2 separate regions of the Homo sapiens genome follow, and region 1 is linked to region 2. The links come from fine-mapping of genetic effects on gene expression. Tissue or cell type: whole blood. Region 2 holds a variant in brackets; the other region holds the start of a gene. All regions are shown on one strand. Distances are between the middles of the regions.

Region 1 (8,000 bases), 140 kb before region 2:
TCCTCTTGTGCTTTTGAGTTCATTTGTTGTAACTGGCCAGAGAAAACTCTCTGCTTTAAAAGAGCTCATGTGATTAGGTCAAGCCCACTTGGATAATCTCCCTGTTTTAAGACCAACTGTGCTATATAATGTAATCTGATTATGAAAGTAAAATCCCTTATAGTCACAGCCTGGGGATTATGGAGAGTGTGTATATTCGGAGTGAGAAATCCCGGGGGACATCTTAGAATTCTGTCTACCACAATAGGTAAGAGTTAGACAAGCACTGATAGCTTTCTAGGTGGGAAAGAAATGTGGAGAAAAGCTCAAAAGTGAAACTCTACCAGGAATTTCTGGAGACTGTGAATATGTCAGTTTGTGACTGCTCTAATAATGATAATGGTTTCTTTTACTGAAGGTCTCCTAGGTGCTTTACAAATTCCCTTACATCAGCTCTGTGACGGTGCTATTATCCCACTTGCCGGAGTTATATCTCCATCAAGTTGTGAAGCTGGGGTTCTGGCTTGAGCTCTGGATGGCTCTGAATTTATGCTGTTTGCACTGTTTAACCTGCCTGTCTGTGGGTCTAAGGTGGGGAAGCTGAAGGCAGTAAGGTTGGTCTGGACCCAGATTGTGGAGGGCATTGGTGTTAACACATGCTAACAGGCACCAAGAAAGATTTTAGAGGGAGCCAGTGAATGTGGAAATCAGGGGGACGGAAATGGGTATGATTATGGATGTTGGGGAGCACATGGGCTGGATGTGCAATGTGATATTCTTTTTGGGAGGTTAATATGGCCAGTCAGGCATTAAAGATGATTACATGATCAAGCCTCTGAGTCTTCCTGCCAATCTGTAGGAAATATATAGTTCAGAAGAACAAGTTAAACTACACATAAATATACAATCAGCAAAGTGGGGACAGGGTGAGGATTTAACAAAATCATACACTTTTTGGGAGGCTATATATACTTTGGGAGGCCATTTATACTTTGGGAGGCCAAGGCAGGTGGATTTCTTGAGTCCAGGAGTTTGAGATCAGCCTGGACAACATGGCGAAACCTTGTCTCTATCAAAAATACAAAAATTAGCCGGGCGTGGTGGCATGCACCTGTGGTCCCAGCTACTTGGGATGCTGAGGTGGGAGAATCACCTGAGCCTGGGGAGGTCAAGGCTGCAGTGAGCCGAAATCACACCACTGCACTCCAGCCTGGACAATCGGAGTGAGACCCTATCTCAAAAAATAAAAACATAAATAAAAATAAATAAAATAAAATAATTTTTAAAATAAAAAAATCATATCGTTCCATCACTCAACTTTTTTTTTTTTGGACAGGGAGTCTCACTCTGTTGCTCAGGCTAGAGTGCAATGGCACGGTATCAGCTCACTGCAACCTCCACCTCCCAGGTTCAAGCAAGTCTCCTGTCTCAGCCTCCCGATTAGCTGGGATTACAGGCACCTGCCACCACACCTGGCTAATTTTTGTATTTTTAGTTGAGACGGGGTTTCACCAGGTTGGCCAGGCTGGTCTTGAACCCCTGACCTCAGGTGATCTGCCTGCCTCAGCCTCCCAAAATGCTGGGATTACAGGCGTGAGCCACCGTGCCTGGCCCCATCACCCAAATATTTATACTATTAACACAAAGTAATGGGCAGAGAAAACAGCTGTGGTGGTTGTGGTAGGACTAGACAAAAATTTTCATTTGATGTGAGAATCTTTTGCTTGGAGGCATTACTGAAAGTGTTTACCTCAGAATGGGAAAGCTTGGGCAAAAGCGAATTTGAAGTAAGTAAGACGTTTGGAAGATGTCTTTTTTTTTTTTTTTTTTTTTTTGAGACAGAGTCTTGCTCTGTCGCCCAGGATGGAGTGTAGTGGCGCGATCTCCGCTCACTGCAAGCTCCGCCTCCCGGGTTCACGCCATTGTCCTGCCTCAGCCTCATGAGTAACTGGGACTACAGGCGCCCGCCACCACGCCTGGCTATTTTTTTTGTATTTTTAGTAGATACGGGGTTTCACCGTGTTAGACAGGATGGCCTAGATCTCCTGACCTCGTGATCCGCCCGCCTCAGCCTCCCAAAGTGCTGGGATTACAGGCGTGAGCCATCGCGCCCGGCCTGGAAGATGTCTTATACAAAGCGTGAGGGAACTGGATAATTTGGTCTTACCTATCAAAATATAAAATGCATATACTTTTGCGTTTTTCTCTTTCCTGGTAGGCATTTGCGCTAGATAAATACACAGATGCACAGCACAGGGGTAAGTACAATTCATGCAGAATTGTTTTTTAATAGTGAAAACCAGGACCCAACCCAAGTCCATGAGTAGGAAATTGGTTCTGTAAATAGTTTTATTTCATGCAATGGAATATCATGCAGTCATTAAGAAGAATGAGGTAGACCTCTACCAGCAGTGAAAGATAAGGGCATTTTAATCAAGGGCAATCATACCTAGTTCCAGGAAAATGTTTATTAATCTCATTTAGTTAGAAAATATATATGTAGAAGTGAATCTATAGACAAGTCTAGAAGGCTACACACCCAGCTGTTAAACAGAATGTCTTTGAGGAGGGCAGGGGGCGGAGTCTGCGTTTACGTGAATGGGACGCTGCTGTTTCTCAGTGCACCTCTGCTGTTTGAATCTTTTACTAAAAACCTTCCCATGCATTGCTGGGAGGGAATGGAAGGAGTATTTTGAGGGTTTCGTGTGAAGGGAAAAGTTGAGGAGGGGACGTGGGAGACCCCTTGGTCTCATCAAACTCTAGCGCCGCTTGAGGTGAGGAGACCCCGCCCCGCTGAGGTGATTCTGCAGAGGGGCGGAGCCCCCCAGATCCGAGGCGGGAGGCGGCCCGGGGGCGGGACCAGCCGGCTCCAGCGGCCCGCTCCGCTCCCACCATGCCCTTATAAGGAGCGCCCGGCGTTAGGGCTCGGGAATCCGGTAGCAATCCCGGCGGCTCAGCCCCAATCCCAGGCCCCTCCCTTAGGAATGGGGGAGGGGCGGGGTTTGGCGGCGCGGTGGCTGGGGCGGAGCATCTCGAAAAGGGACCAGTAGGAGTGGCGGCCCAGGTCTGAGCTGCGCTGCCATTGGGCGCGGCGACGAGAGGGGGCGGGGAGCCCGTGAGGCTGGTTACGCCGAGGGAAGCCCCGACTCCGTAGTCGCTGCACAGTCTGTCTCTTCGCCGGTTCCCGGCCCCGTGGATCCTACTTCTCTGTCGCCCGCGGTTCGCCGCCCCGCTCGCCGCCGCGATGCCAGTGTTTCATACGCGCACGATCGAGAGCATCCTGGAGCCGGTGGCACAGCAGATCTCCCACCTGGTGATAATGCACGAGGAGGGCGAGGTGGACGGCAAAGCCATTCCTGACCTCACCGCGCCCGTGGCCGCCGTGCAGGCGGCCGTCAGCAACCTCGTCCGGGTGAGCGCGCAGGGCCTGGCGCGGGAGCGGGCGCGGGAGGTATCCCCGGGGCCCCGGCCCGCGTCGCGGCTGCCTGTGGCCGGCTCGCTGGCCGTGGCTTTCCGCGTGGGTTCCGGAGCCAGGCGCCGAGGGTTCGAATGGCCTCTTCTCCGCCCTGTGACCTTGAGCGAGTCCTGAGCCTCTCCGGGCCTCAGTGTCCTCATCTATAAAATGGGAGCAGTCATGAAAAAGGCTGCCTTGCGGGCTTGTCGTGAAGATATGGCGAGGTATTATTCGTGGAGTGCCTCGCGCGGCGTGTGGCCCACAGCAGACACCCAATAAATGAGAGTTGCTGGGATGTCCGAGGGTCCCTGCCCCGCGCAGGCTTCGCCCCCACGTTGACTTCCTCGCTCTCAGCGCCTTTTAGGCCTCCTCGATCTGGCTGTGCGGGGGAGGGAGAGCGGGCCTTCCCACGGATCCCTTGCCTTCTCTTCTAGGGATCCTTATTTGAGCCACGTTGTCCTCCTTTCTAATACTTCTGCCCCTCACCCTGAGACCCGCCTCGCCCACCCCCGCTCCCCAGAGCTCCCTGTATTCCGCCCTTTTATTCACTTGCCTCACTCTCTGTCGCCTCCTCCTCCCTCCTGGGCATTTTACTTATGCTCACTCCTCTGGCACTCTCACACCTTTATGCAGTCATTCGTGACCACAAGCCCGGTTTTTCCTTCCGCTCAGCCCTGCTGCCCTTCCTTTCATTCCCTCCTGTGGACATTTTCACCTGGCGTTACCTGCTGTCAAACGGCCTCCTCCCACTGGGGCCTTTCTAGACTCGGGGGCCCTCCTTGGCCCCTCCTCCTGGCAGGAAGCAAGATGGAGCTGTTGGGAGAGGCCTGTGGAATCTGGGATCTGCCGCCCCTGCCGGAGAGAAGGCTGGGGCATCCGCTCCCCATCCACAACTTTCCTGGTGGCTCTGCAGACCCCTGTAACCCACAGCTGTGACTCATAACCGAGGTGATTCCTGGAGGAGGTGGAGCCCACGTCTGAAATGGGAAAAAAGAGGTGCTGAGACCAGTCTCCCAAGACTCCCCTGGCTAATGTCACACTTTTCTTTCCCACCCTGGGTGGGTGACTCAGACTGGTCCTGCTTGTGAGGAACAATTTTGGAAAAAGTTCATACTGCTCCCCCACTGAGCTGTGTAAATAGTGTGTGTCAGGGCAGTTGGGCGGCAACTGTGGGTCTGTCTGGGTGGGGCTTGGGTTACTTTTCTGATTTGAGCACTTTAGTGCACTTAGAGGCTCTTTAGCAGCTGAAAGTCTTCCTCAGTCTTCAGGGGTCCCTGGACTGTCTCAAGCAATTTAGGAGACTGGTAGCTAGGAAGACAGGGTGACACCACCGACCAAATTCCTGATCTTTCTTCTCTATAGCTTTAGTAAGAATCTATTCATTCAGTAAGAATGCTGTATTCATTCACAATGTCTACTTGTACATTGTTCTTCTTTTTATAACTAATTTGAACAGAACACTCCAGAGTACATTCTTATGTAGTGTTGTCTAACATGGCTGCATTCCAGGCCTCCATTTTTCAACAAATAGGAAACAATGTAAAGAGACAAGGTAATAGTGTCTCTCCATGTAGTACTTCAGGAAATGAAATCTTAAAACCACATGTTGCACTTGGAACAGAGCTAGTGTAGTCTAGGGGTTGATATCTGGTTAGGCTATTTAGAGAAAAGTTATTTATGGGCTTCCATGCCATGAATTAATAAGCATTGAATGTCTGCTATATGGAAAACACTGCAATAAATCAGTGCTTCTCAGCTTAAGAGTGTTCATGAAAATCATCAGTGAGGCTTTTTAGAAATTAAGATGTCCAGCTCCCACGGGTCAAGGCCTTTGTATTTTGCTTTTTTTTTTTTTTTTTTTTGAGACAGGGTCTCGCTCTGTCACGCAGGCGCTGGAGTGCAATGGCGTGATCATAGCTCACTGCAGCCTCCATCTCCTGGACTGAGAAAAATCCTCCCACCTCAGCCTCCCAAGTAGCTGAAGGCCTTTGTTTGTTTGTTTGTTTGTTTGTTTTTGAGATGGAGTCTTCCTCTGTCACGAGGCTGGAGTGCAGTGACACGATCTGGGCCCACTGCAACGTCCTCCTCCCAGGTTCAAGTGATTCTCCTGCCTTAGCCTCCCGAGTAGCTGGGACTACAGGTTCGCACCACCGTGGCCAGCTAATTTTTGTATTTTTAGTAGAGGCGGGGTTTCACCATGTTGGCCAGGATGATCTCCATCTCTTGACCTTGTGATTTGCCCGCCTCGGCCTCCCAAAGTGCTGAGATTACAGGCATGTGCCACTGTGCCCGGCCAGGCCTTCGTATTTTTTAGGAAGCTCCATAGGTGATTGTGATATACGGCCTTAGTTAGGAAACACTGTAATACACACTGTGAGACAAATACAAAAGAAATAAGGTTATAAGATGAAAACAATGATATGTAGTTAAGTTATATACTTTCCAACACATACAAAAGAGGGGACTTGAGATTGGTGGTAGCTATGGGTTAGCAGAGACAAAGTAGGGAGGATTGTGCTGATAAATAGTTAATCATGAACAAAGGTACTTGTGAGTAAGTCACTTCCAGGTTACAGCAAGTAGATTATCTTGATTGCAGCTCAGGAGACAAGTTGGAGAGAAATTGGAGATGAAGTTAGTGCGTGACATATGGGCAGTGTAACATAGGCCTTATCCAAAAGGATGAACAAAGAGAGCAGGAGGGGAAGGAGGATGAGAATAGTGTGTGAGAAAGACTGCGTGAGAATGGCGTGTGAGAATAGTATAGTGTGTTTTGGGGAGGCCAGAGGACCTACCCATTGCTTCACATTCTTGGTGCCAACTGTGACCGTTAAATATGTGGATTCTGTACATGCTTCAAGATTGTTCCTGGAGGTCAAGCCTTGTCTGATATTCCTCTCTTTTTAAAAAATTTTATTTTGGTTTTAAATAGAGACAGGGTCTTGTTATGTTGCCCAGGCTGGTCTCGAATCCCTGGGCTCAAGCAATCCTCCCGCCTTGGCCTCTCAAAGTGCTGGATTACAGTTGTGAGCTACTGTGCCTGGTCTGATATTTCTTTATATGGTCCTCAGTTCCTGCCCTCAAAATTGGCACATAGGATCACTCAATAAATATTGTTGAAGGAACTATGGGAAGGGAGACAAATTGGGAAGCTTTTAAAATTGGTTGGTTATGAAGAAAATGAAGGCCTGGACTTGCGAGTGGCAGGGAAAATGGAGAAGGAATTAATCAGAAATATATTAGAAGAAGAAATAATAGAACTGGATAATTGAACTCTGAATTTGCTAGAAAAGAAACATAGTATTACGGTAAAATAATGAAACTGATTTTAGAACAAATCTTCTGGAATTTATGTAATCTGGGTGAGTATTTCTTGGGAGTTACTTTGGGAGGTTATATCCTTATTCTAGTGCTTTTCTTTGGGAATTTCTTTCAGATTATTTACATACGTATGCCAAATTAGTCTTATTTTGGTCAAGAAAGTGTACATTTTGACTGAAGTAGGCATTCTTGAGCTCAACTACTTCATTTACTGTTCTTGAGCCTAAATGACTTTTGGATATTTCCATAATTAAAATTTACTAGATGAAGATGAAATTTTCAATTGTTGTAATAGTCATTCACTTATCAAGCAGGTGTTTATTGAGACCCCTTCCAATGTCAAAGCAATAAGTGTGATGCCTGTCACAATCAGTATGATACTGAATTGGAAGTCTTTTTTTTCTGAGATGGAGTTACGCTCTTATTGCCCAGGTTGGAGTGCAGTGGCATGATCTTGGCTCACCGCAACCTCTGTCTCCCAGGTTCAAGTGATTCTCCTGCCTCAGCCTCCCTAGTAGCTGGGATTACAGGCATGTGCCACCACGCCCGGCTAATTTTGGATTTTTAGTAGAGACGGGGTTTCTCCATGTTGGTTAGGCTGGTCTTGAACTCCTGACCTCAGGTTATCCGCCCGCCTCGGCCTCCCAAAGTGCTGGGATTACAGGCGTGAGCCACCACGCCCGGCTGAATTGGAAATCTTAAGTGGCACTGAGGAAACAGAGTATGATGGAAAGTCAGAGGAAGACGAGATTACTTTTGATTGGAGAATCAGGGAAGGCTTCACAGAGGATATAACATTGAGTTGGGTCTTAAAGACAGATAGGATTTGAATATTTAGAGATGTGGTAAGAAAGGTATTACTTGGCCAAGTATGGTGGCTCATGCCTGTAATCCCAGCACTTTGGGAGGCCGAGGCGGGCTGATCACGAGGTCAAGAGATGGAGACCATCCTGGCCAACAGGGTGAAACCCCGTCTCTACTAAAAATACAAAAATTAACTGGGCATGGTGGCACGCGCCTGTAGTCCCAGCTACTCGGGAGGCTGAGGCGGGAGAATCGCTTGAATCCGGGAGGTGGAGGTTGCACTGAGCTGAGATCTTGCCACTGCATTCCAGCCTGGTGACAAAGGAAGACTCTGTCTCAAAAAAAAAAAAAAAAAGAAAGACATTACTTACTTTTATGGGGGCAGAACTCATTAGGATTTGTAATTTCATGTATATTTGCTAAGCAAAGTAGTCTGGTCACT
Region 2 (8,266 bases):
ACTTGGGAGGCTGAGGCGGGAGGATTGCTTGAACCCGGGAGGCGGAGGTTGCGGTGAGCCAAGATCATGCTACTGCACTCCAGCCTAGGGAACAGAGTGAGACTCCGTCTCAAACAAAACAAAACAAAACAAAACAAAACAAGCAAACAAAAAAAACCCCTCTATAGTCCTAATATTATTCCTCAATATTTTCTTGATATTTCTAGGTTGAATTTAATTCCTATTACATATTATACCAGAAAGTATTGAAACATTAAATTGGAATTTGAGCTATAAACTTCATTCACCCTGATTATCCCAAAATACATATAGATAAGCTTAAATTATTTGGTATATTCCGCAAGACAAAATAATAAAATGTAAATATAGAAGAGTTCATAACCAATGAAAATCTTGAGACCATTGAGAGAACTGTATGCGGAGGGCATTATTGTTTCCTGATGATATACAGTCATCCCTTGGTATTTGTGGGAATTAGTTCCAGGATCCCCTGTAGATACCAAAGTTCACAATTCTCAAGTCGCTGACATAAAATGGCATAGTATTTGCACATAACTTATACACATCCTCCTATATACTTTAAATCACCTCTAGATTACTTGTAATATCTAACACAGTGTAAATGCTATGTAACTATTTGTTATACTGTATTGTTCAAGTAATAATGAGAAGAAGTTTGTACATGTTCAGTTCGATTTTTTTGTTCAAATATTTGCCATGTAAGGTTGGGTGACTTTATGGATGCAGAACCCATGTATATGGAGAGCCAACTGTAATCTGTAATACATATAAAAAATAGTGAATAGAGCAGCCATGTGTGTAACTGTATACCACACAGAAAAGGGCTTATGAATTTACGCTTAAACAGAGAGAGACAGACAGTAAACATCAAAACCTGGGTAATTAAATAATATAATCATGTCTCACCTTCAGCTAACTTGGGTCATTTAACTTAGAAAGGTATGATAGATAACCAACCTGAAAAGTGTCAGCAACTCGATGTAGGAACTCAATTACAAAGAGAGGTGGCACTTCGGTCTGTATGACAGATACAAAGAAGAGCTTATCCCGGTAGATACTGATGAGGTAGTGGTGAGGTGTTGAAATGACAGGTGGTACATTTTCAACATCAGCAGCTTTCTCTTGAGCTTCAAAGAAATAATCACAGACAGACTGGCTCACAACGCTCTTCCAGTGCTTCTCTAGAAATATGTCACCGGAACAGTTTATGAGAAATAGACTGTGGATCATTTTCTGTTGGGGCAAAGAAAGGTTTAAATTTATTATACATTAAATATCATTTAACATACACAAAAAGATTATACACCTTGACCAAGTGGGATTTATTCTAAGAATGCAAGGCTGGTTCAACATACAAAAATCAATCAACATGATATACAATAAGAACTAAAACAATCATTTCAAAAGGTGCAGAAATTGCATTTGACAAAATCCAACATCCTTTTACGAAAAAAAAAAAAAAAAAAGAAAGCCATTTAAGAACAAAAAGAAACTTCCTCAGCCAGGCTCAGTGGCACATGCCTGTAATCTCAGCACTTTGGGAGGCTGAGGTGGGCGGATTGCTTGAGCTCAGGAGTTTGAGACCAGCCTGGGCAACAGGGCAAAACATCATCTTTACAAAAAATACAAAAATTAGCCAAGCATGGTGGCACTTGCCTGTAGTCCTAGGTACTCAGGAGGATGAAGCAGGAGAATTGCTTGAGCCCAGGAGGAAGATCGACGCTGTAGAGAGCTAAGATTGCGCCACTGCACTCCAGCCTGGGTGACCAAGTGAGACACTATCTAAAAAAAAAAAAAAAAAAAAAAAAAATTTCCTTAACCTGATGAAAACCCCACAGCTAATATTATATTTAAAGGTGAAAGACCGAACACTTTCTCCTTAATAACAAAACCTAACAAGGATGCCCAGTCCCATCATTTCTATTCAACATGGTACTAGAGGTTTGAACCAGGGCAATTAAGCAAGAAAATAAAACAAAAGGCTTCCAAATTGGAAAGGAAGAAGTAAAACTGTATCTGTAGAAGATACAATCTTATATATAGAAAATCCTAAGGAATCCACACACACACAAAAAAAAACCTATTAGAGCTAATAAATTTAGTTCAGCAAGCTTGCAGGACACAAGTCAATATAAAAATCAATTATATTTCTATCCACTATAGCTATAAAATACTAAAAATGGGCTAGGCATTGTAACTCATGCCTATAAACCCAGCACTGTGGGAGGCTGAGGAAGGAGGATTGCTTGAGCTCAGGAGTTTAAGACCAGCCTATGCAACATAGTGAGACCTCATCTCTATTAAAAAAAAAAAAACAAAACAAAACTGAAAATGAAATAAAACAATTTCAGGCCGGGCGTGGTGGCTCATGCCTATAATCCCAGCACTTGGGGAGGCCGAGGCAGGTGGATCACCTGAGGTCGGGAGTTCAAGACCAGCCTGGCCAACGTGCAGAAACTCTGTCTCTACTAAAAAAAAAAAAAAAAGGCCAGGCGCGGTGGCTCACGCCTGTAATCCCAACACTTTGGGAGGCCGAGGTGGGTGGATCACGAGGTCAGGAGATCGAGACCATCCTGGCTAAGACGGTGAAACCCCGTCCCTACTAAAATTAGCCAGGCGTGGTGGCACGCACCTGTAGTCCCAGCTACTCAGGAGGCTGAGGCAGAAGAATCGCTTGAACCCGGGAGGCGGAGGTTGCAGTGAGCCGAGACTCAAGATTGCACCACTGTACTCCAGCCTGGGTGACAGATTGAGACTCCATCTCAAAAAAAAAAAAAAAAAAATCCCAGCTGCCTTTTCGTGGAATTTGACAGGCTAATCCTAAATTCATAAGGAATTGAAAAAGATCAACAGCCAAAACAATCTTGAAAAGGAACAACAGGGGCGAACGGGGTGGGGTGCGCCATTCCTCCCTGGCCAGGGTGCTTGGGAGCAGGGACCCCCACCTGCAGCTGAGCATCCTTCCTGGGAGCCACTCTGCTGTTCCAAGGACCTGGGAGGAGCCCTCGGTCCCCCGGGTGCCAGGGCCCTGGGGCGCACACATCCACCCCAGCCCGAGCCTGCGTTTCCTGAGCCAGGATCTGGGGCGAGATGGCTGCAGGCGGCCGTGCGCCCAAGCCCCACGTCCTCGTCTGCCTTGGGGCGCTCCTGGCCAGCTGGTCGCCGTAGGTTAAACTCACCTTACACCTGTAACCGGTGGACTTCCCTACATACCTTTGCAAGCCCTTCTGTGCCGACCAGCGCCTTCAAAGCGGGGTCTTCTGCCTTTACTTTTGGAAAAGCTTTTCATTTTGAAATACTTGGCTGACTTACAAAAGACTTCCCCTCACACTTGACATGATTGACAAAAGGTCTGAAATGCTTCATCTACAGTCTGATTTACTATGAAACAAGAATTGGGGGGATGCTTACAAAAATATGTAGAATTAAAAAGATTGAAAAAATATATATATTTGAATTAAAAAAAAAAAGGAACAACGAAGATGGATAACTCGTGCTTCCTGATTTCAAAACTTACTACAAAACTACTATGTGGTATTGGCACAAGGACAGACCTACAGATCAATAGAACATTAACCCTTACATTTATGGTCAACTGATTTTCAACAAGGGTGCCAAGACCTGGGTGACCAGTTGGAGAGAGAACAACCTTTTCAACAAATGGTACTGGAACAACTGGATTTCCACATACAAAAGAATGAAATTGGATACAAAAAGCAACACAAAATGTATCAAAGACCTAATTGGAAAAGCCAAAATGATAAAACTCTTAGAAAAAATATGCATAGATTTTGACTCTGGATTAGACAATGTTTTTTAAGATACGATACCAAAAGTACAGACAAGAAAAATAAAAAATAGATAACCCAGAGTCCATCAAATTTAAAACTTAGTGCTTCAAAGGACATTATCAAGAAAGCAAAAATTCACAAAATGATAGTAAATATTTGAAACCATATATCTTAAAGGGACCCCTATCCGGAAAATATAAAGAACTTTTACTCAATAATAAGAAGGGCCAGGTGTGGTGACTCACAACTGTAATCCTAGCACTCTGGGAGGCTGAGGAGGGAGGATTGCTTGAGCCCAGGAGTTTGAGACCCCGTCTCTATAAAAAAATTTAAAAACTAGCCAGGCATAGTGGCTCATACCTGTAGTCCCTGCTACTTGGGAGGCTGAGGTGGGAGGATTGCCTGAGTCCAGGAGTTTGAGGCTGCAGTCAACTATGATCCCACCACTGCACCCTAGCCTGGGTGACAGAGGGAGACCTTGCCTCTAAAACATAAAAAATAAATAAATAAACAAGCCAATTAAAAAATGGGCAAAGGATTTGAAAAGACATTTACTCAAAGAATATATACATACAAACGAATCTTACAAATACGATGTTGAATAAATGAAGCCAGATGCAAAAGAATATACACAGTATGATTCCATTTATATGAAGTTGTAGAACAGGCAAAACTAATCTACGTTAAATCAAATGGTTTCCTTTATGGAGAGTGGAGGGCCATGGGGATGATCTCCTAGAGTGCTGGTAATGTTTTATTTCTTTTTTATTTTCCTTTTTTTTTTTTTTTTGAGATGGAGTCTTACACTGTCGCCCAGGCTGGAGTGCAATGGTGTTATCTCGGCTCACTGAAACCTCTGCCTCCCAAGTTCACGAGATTCTCCTGCCTCAGCCTCCCTAGTAGCTGGGATTACAGGCACACACCGCCACACCTGGCTAGTTTTTTTTTTTTTTTGTATTTTTAATAGAGACGAGGTTTCACTATGTTGGCCAGGCTGGTCTTGAACTCCTGACCTCGTGATCCGCCTGCCTCAGCCTCCCAAAGTGCTAGGATTACAGGAGTGAGACACCGCACCTGGCCAATGTTTTATTTCTTGACCTGCATGATGTTTACAAGCTGTGTTCCTTCTATGATAACTCATTAGGCTTTACATTGTGATTTGCATACTTTCTGAGTGTTAGTTATGCTTCCTATAAGAAGTTTATTGTCCCTGCAATATGGGGGACAATG[G/C]AAAAATGTCTAATTATCTTACCTTGTTCCTATCTTTTACGTGTATAAGCACCAGTATCAGGTGTTTAGTCTAGTGGCTCAATCATTCCAAGTAATAGTACTATAGTCTAAGAAGAAAGAATTTAAGACCTATGAATACAGTTTCTATGAATGAAGATAAATTCCAAAGAGGAAAGGAAGACTTTCCAGAATTGATTCATTTGATTCTGTTGACAGAAAACAACATCAACCCTTTCTTTTATGAAAGCGGCTGACATTTAAAGAATATGTGGTGATGATCTCCTCTTCCCATTCGACACATGTTCAGTAGTTATCAATAATACTAGTTACTAAGATATGTTTTAGTAATTATTGTATTAATAAAGTATGAATACTGTTAACAGTTTAGGGTTCCTGTTTAATTAGAACCAAAAAATTTCTTTGTTTAAAGCCCTCTGTTTAGCCAAGAAATCAACTTGAGTTATTAGCAATAAACTCTGACACCTCAGGGTTGGAACCTGCCAAATTTTTCTACTTTATCTAGTCAGATGCTTTGCTTAGTAGGCTTGCTTTGTGTCTTATATTTCTGTCTGGGTATTAATATAAGTGCCATTAGAATACTTAGACTTGCTATATAGAACCTGCTGATTTTAACTATAATCTTTAGCTGATAAACTTTTCATTTTCATTTTTTAAATGAAACAGGAATATCCAACCATAAGATCTGCAACTAAATTTTTATTATTACACCTTTTTCTTGGAAGAAAATCAGCATCTGAAATATATAATGTATGACTTCAAGTGGAGCACTGTAATCCACAAGCAGACTCAGATTTGGGCACTTCAGGTGAGTCACATATGGAACACAGCATTCTTTGCAAAAATTAATCTTTTGGCCCCATTCAATGTGGTTATTTTTGGCCAGGCACAGTGGCTCACGCCTGTAATCCCAGCACTTTGGGAGGCCAAGACTGGTGGATTACCTGAGGTCAGGAGTTCAAGGCCATCCTGGCCAGCATGGCAAAACCCTGTCTCTACTAAAAATACAAAAATTAGCCGGGCATGGTGGCGTGCGCCTGTAATCCCAGCTACTTGGGAACAAAGCTTGTTTGTTTGTTTGAGCAGAGTCTCCCACTGTCACCCAGGCTGGAGTGCAGTGGTGTGATCTCTGCTGACTGCAACCTCCGTCTCCCATGGGCAAGCAATTCTCGTGCCTCAGCCTCCTCAGTAGCTGGGATTACAGGTGTGCACCACCATGCCCAGCTAGTTTTTCTGTTTTTAGTAGAAATGGGGTTTCACCATGTTGGCCTCAAGTGATCCGCCTGCCTTCGCCTCCCAAAGTGAAGCTACTGTACTCAGTCCCCATTCAAAGTGTTTTATTCATTAAAGATAATGAATAATAAATGAATTAATACTATCTAAAATGTATTGAGTACTTATTATGGGCCAGACACTATGCTAGACACTTTATCTCATCTTATTTTCACAATGCTACACCATAAATACTACTATTATCCCCATTTTACAGATAAGACAATGTCATCTCAGAAAAGTTAGGTCAATTACCTAAGATCACGCAGTAAGCTAGGATTCAAACCTAAATCCAGCTGAATTCTGAGCTCCTGCTCTTATCTGCCTTGTAGAGACTAATTATTAGGAACACGTTCTAATACAGCACTGTCCAACAGGGCTTTCTGCAATGATGGAAATGTCCTTTATCTGTGCTAATATGGTAGCCACTACACCCATGGCTATTGAGCACTTGAAATGTGGCTAATGTACCCAATACTGAAGTTTTAATTTTTTTGAAATTTTAATTAATTTTTTTTTGAGACGGAGTCTTGCTCTGTCTCCCAGACAGGAGCGCAATGGCGTGATCTCTGCTCACTGCAAGCTCCGCCTCCCAGGTTCACACCATTCTCCTGCCTCAGCCTCCCGAGTAGCTGGGACTACAGGAGCCCGCCACCACGCCTGGCTAATTTTTTGTATTTTTAGTAGAGATGGGGTTTCACCATGTTAGCCAGGATGGTCTCGATCTCCGGACCTCATGATCCACCCGCCTCGGCCTCCCAAAGTGCTGGGATTACAGGCGTGAGCCACCATGCCCGGCTTTTTTATTTTTATTTTTTTTTTGAGATAGGGTCTCGCTCTGTTGCCCAGGCTGGAGTGCAGCTGCGTCATCTTGGCTCACTCCAACGCCCACCTCCAGAGCCCAAGCGATCCTCCCACTTCAGTCTCCTGAGTAGCTGGGCTTACAGGCGTGCATCACCACACACAGCTGAGTTTCAAATTTTTGTTTTGTAGAGACAAAGTCTGCCTATATTGCCCAGGCTGATCCTGGACTCCTGGGCTCAAGTGATCTTCCCACCTTGATCTCCCAAAGTTCTGGGATTACAGGTGTGAGCCACCAAGCCTAGCCTGAAGTTTTAATTTTAATTAATTTAAATTTAAATAACCATATATGGTTAGTAGTTAATATATTGAACAGTGCATGAATGTGCTGCTTTAGCTTATGATTTTTTTTTTTTTTTGAGACGGAGTCTTGCTCTATTGCCCAGGCTGGAGTGCAATGGCACGATTTCCTCTTACCACAACCTCCGCCTGCTGGGTTCAAGCGATTCTCCTGCCTCAGCCTCCCGAGTAGCTAGGATTACAGGCATGCGCCACCATGCCCAGCTAATTTTTTGTATTTTTAGTAGAGATGGGGTTTCACCATGTTGGCCAGGCTGGTCTCGAACTCCTGACCTCGTGATCCGCCCGCCTCAGCCTCCCAAAGTGCTGAGATTACAGGCATGAGCCACTGCACCCAGCCTAGCTTATGATTTAAGAGGAGGAGGTAAAAGACATTTCTTGTTTAGTTAGGAGGCAAAAGACATTCTAGTTGTTATGCTGAGGAAGTTTAATAAATTATTTAGAGTGGAAGTTATATTTAAAAGCACCGACACAGGTTATCTAAAATCATTCATCCTATCGAAAATATAGTTCACAAGGATTTATAGTGCTCCTTTGCCACAATACACTCTGAAAGAGTTGCTTGTTTTGAAAGTAAGTGATTTTGTAGTTACTTTATTTTAGGGCCAGATCTCTACTCATCCTCTTAAGCTGGTGAAAAATTCTTTCCAGGAAAGTTTCCACCGAAGTTGTTTTTATTGGCAGTAGTTCAGGTCTCAGAATACAGAAAGTTAAACCAGCCTCCTAGATTTATTGTTGTTATCCTTAGTGCTGAGATGAAAGCATAACACTTG

What was found. PIP is the estimated chance that this variant, and not a neighbour inherited with it, causes the effect.
Region 1: it holds the start of VCL, and the variant in region 2 is fine-mapped to the expression of VCL in whole blood (INTERVAL, PIP above 0.99).

Annotation. Positions count from the first base shown.
Region 1 is chr10:73,994,985-74,002,984 of GRCh38, forward strand. It overlaps VCL (vinculin), which reads left to right and starts at 3,132. Exons shown (of 22, transcript NM_014000.3): 1 at 3,132-3,391. The coding sequence starts at 3,224. RefSeq lists silencers at 2,741-3,100, 3,431-3,480 and enhancers at 3,161-3,360, 3,433-4,084.
Region 2 is chr10:74,137,129-74,145,394 of GRCh38, forward strand. AP3M1 (adaptor related protein complex 3 subunit mu 1) reads right to left here. Exons shown (of 9, transcript NM_012095.6): 2 at 979-1,254. The coding sequence starts at 1,251. Among named protein-coding and RNA genes, the nearest start is that of AP3M1, 9.6 kb to the right of the region's middle. The variant G/C (reference allele first, on the strand shown) is at 5,043.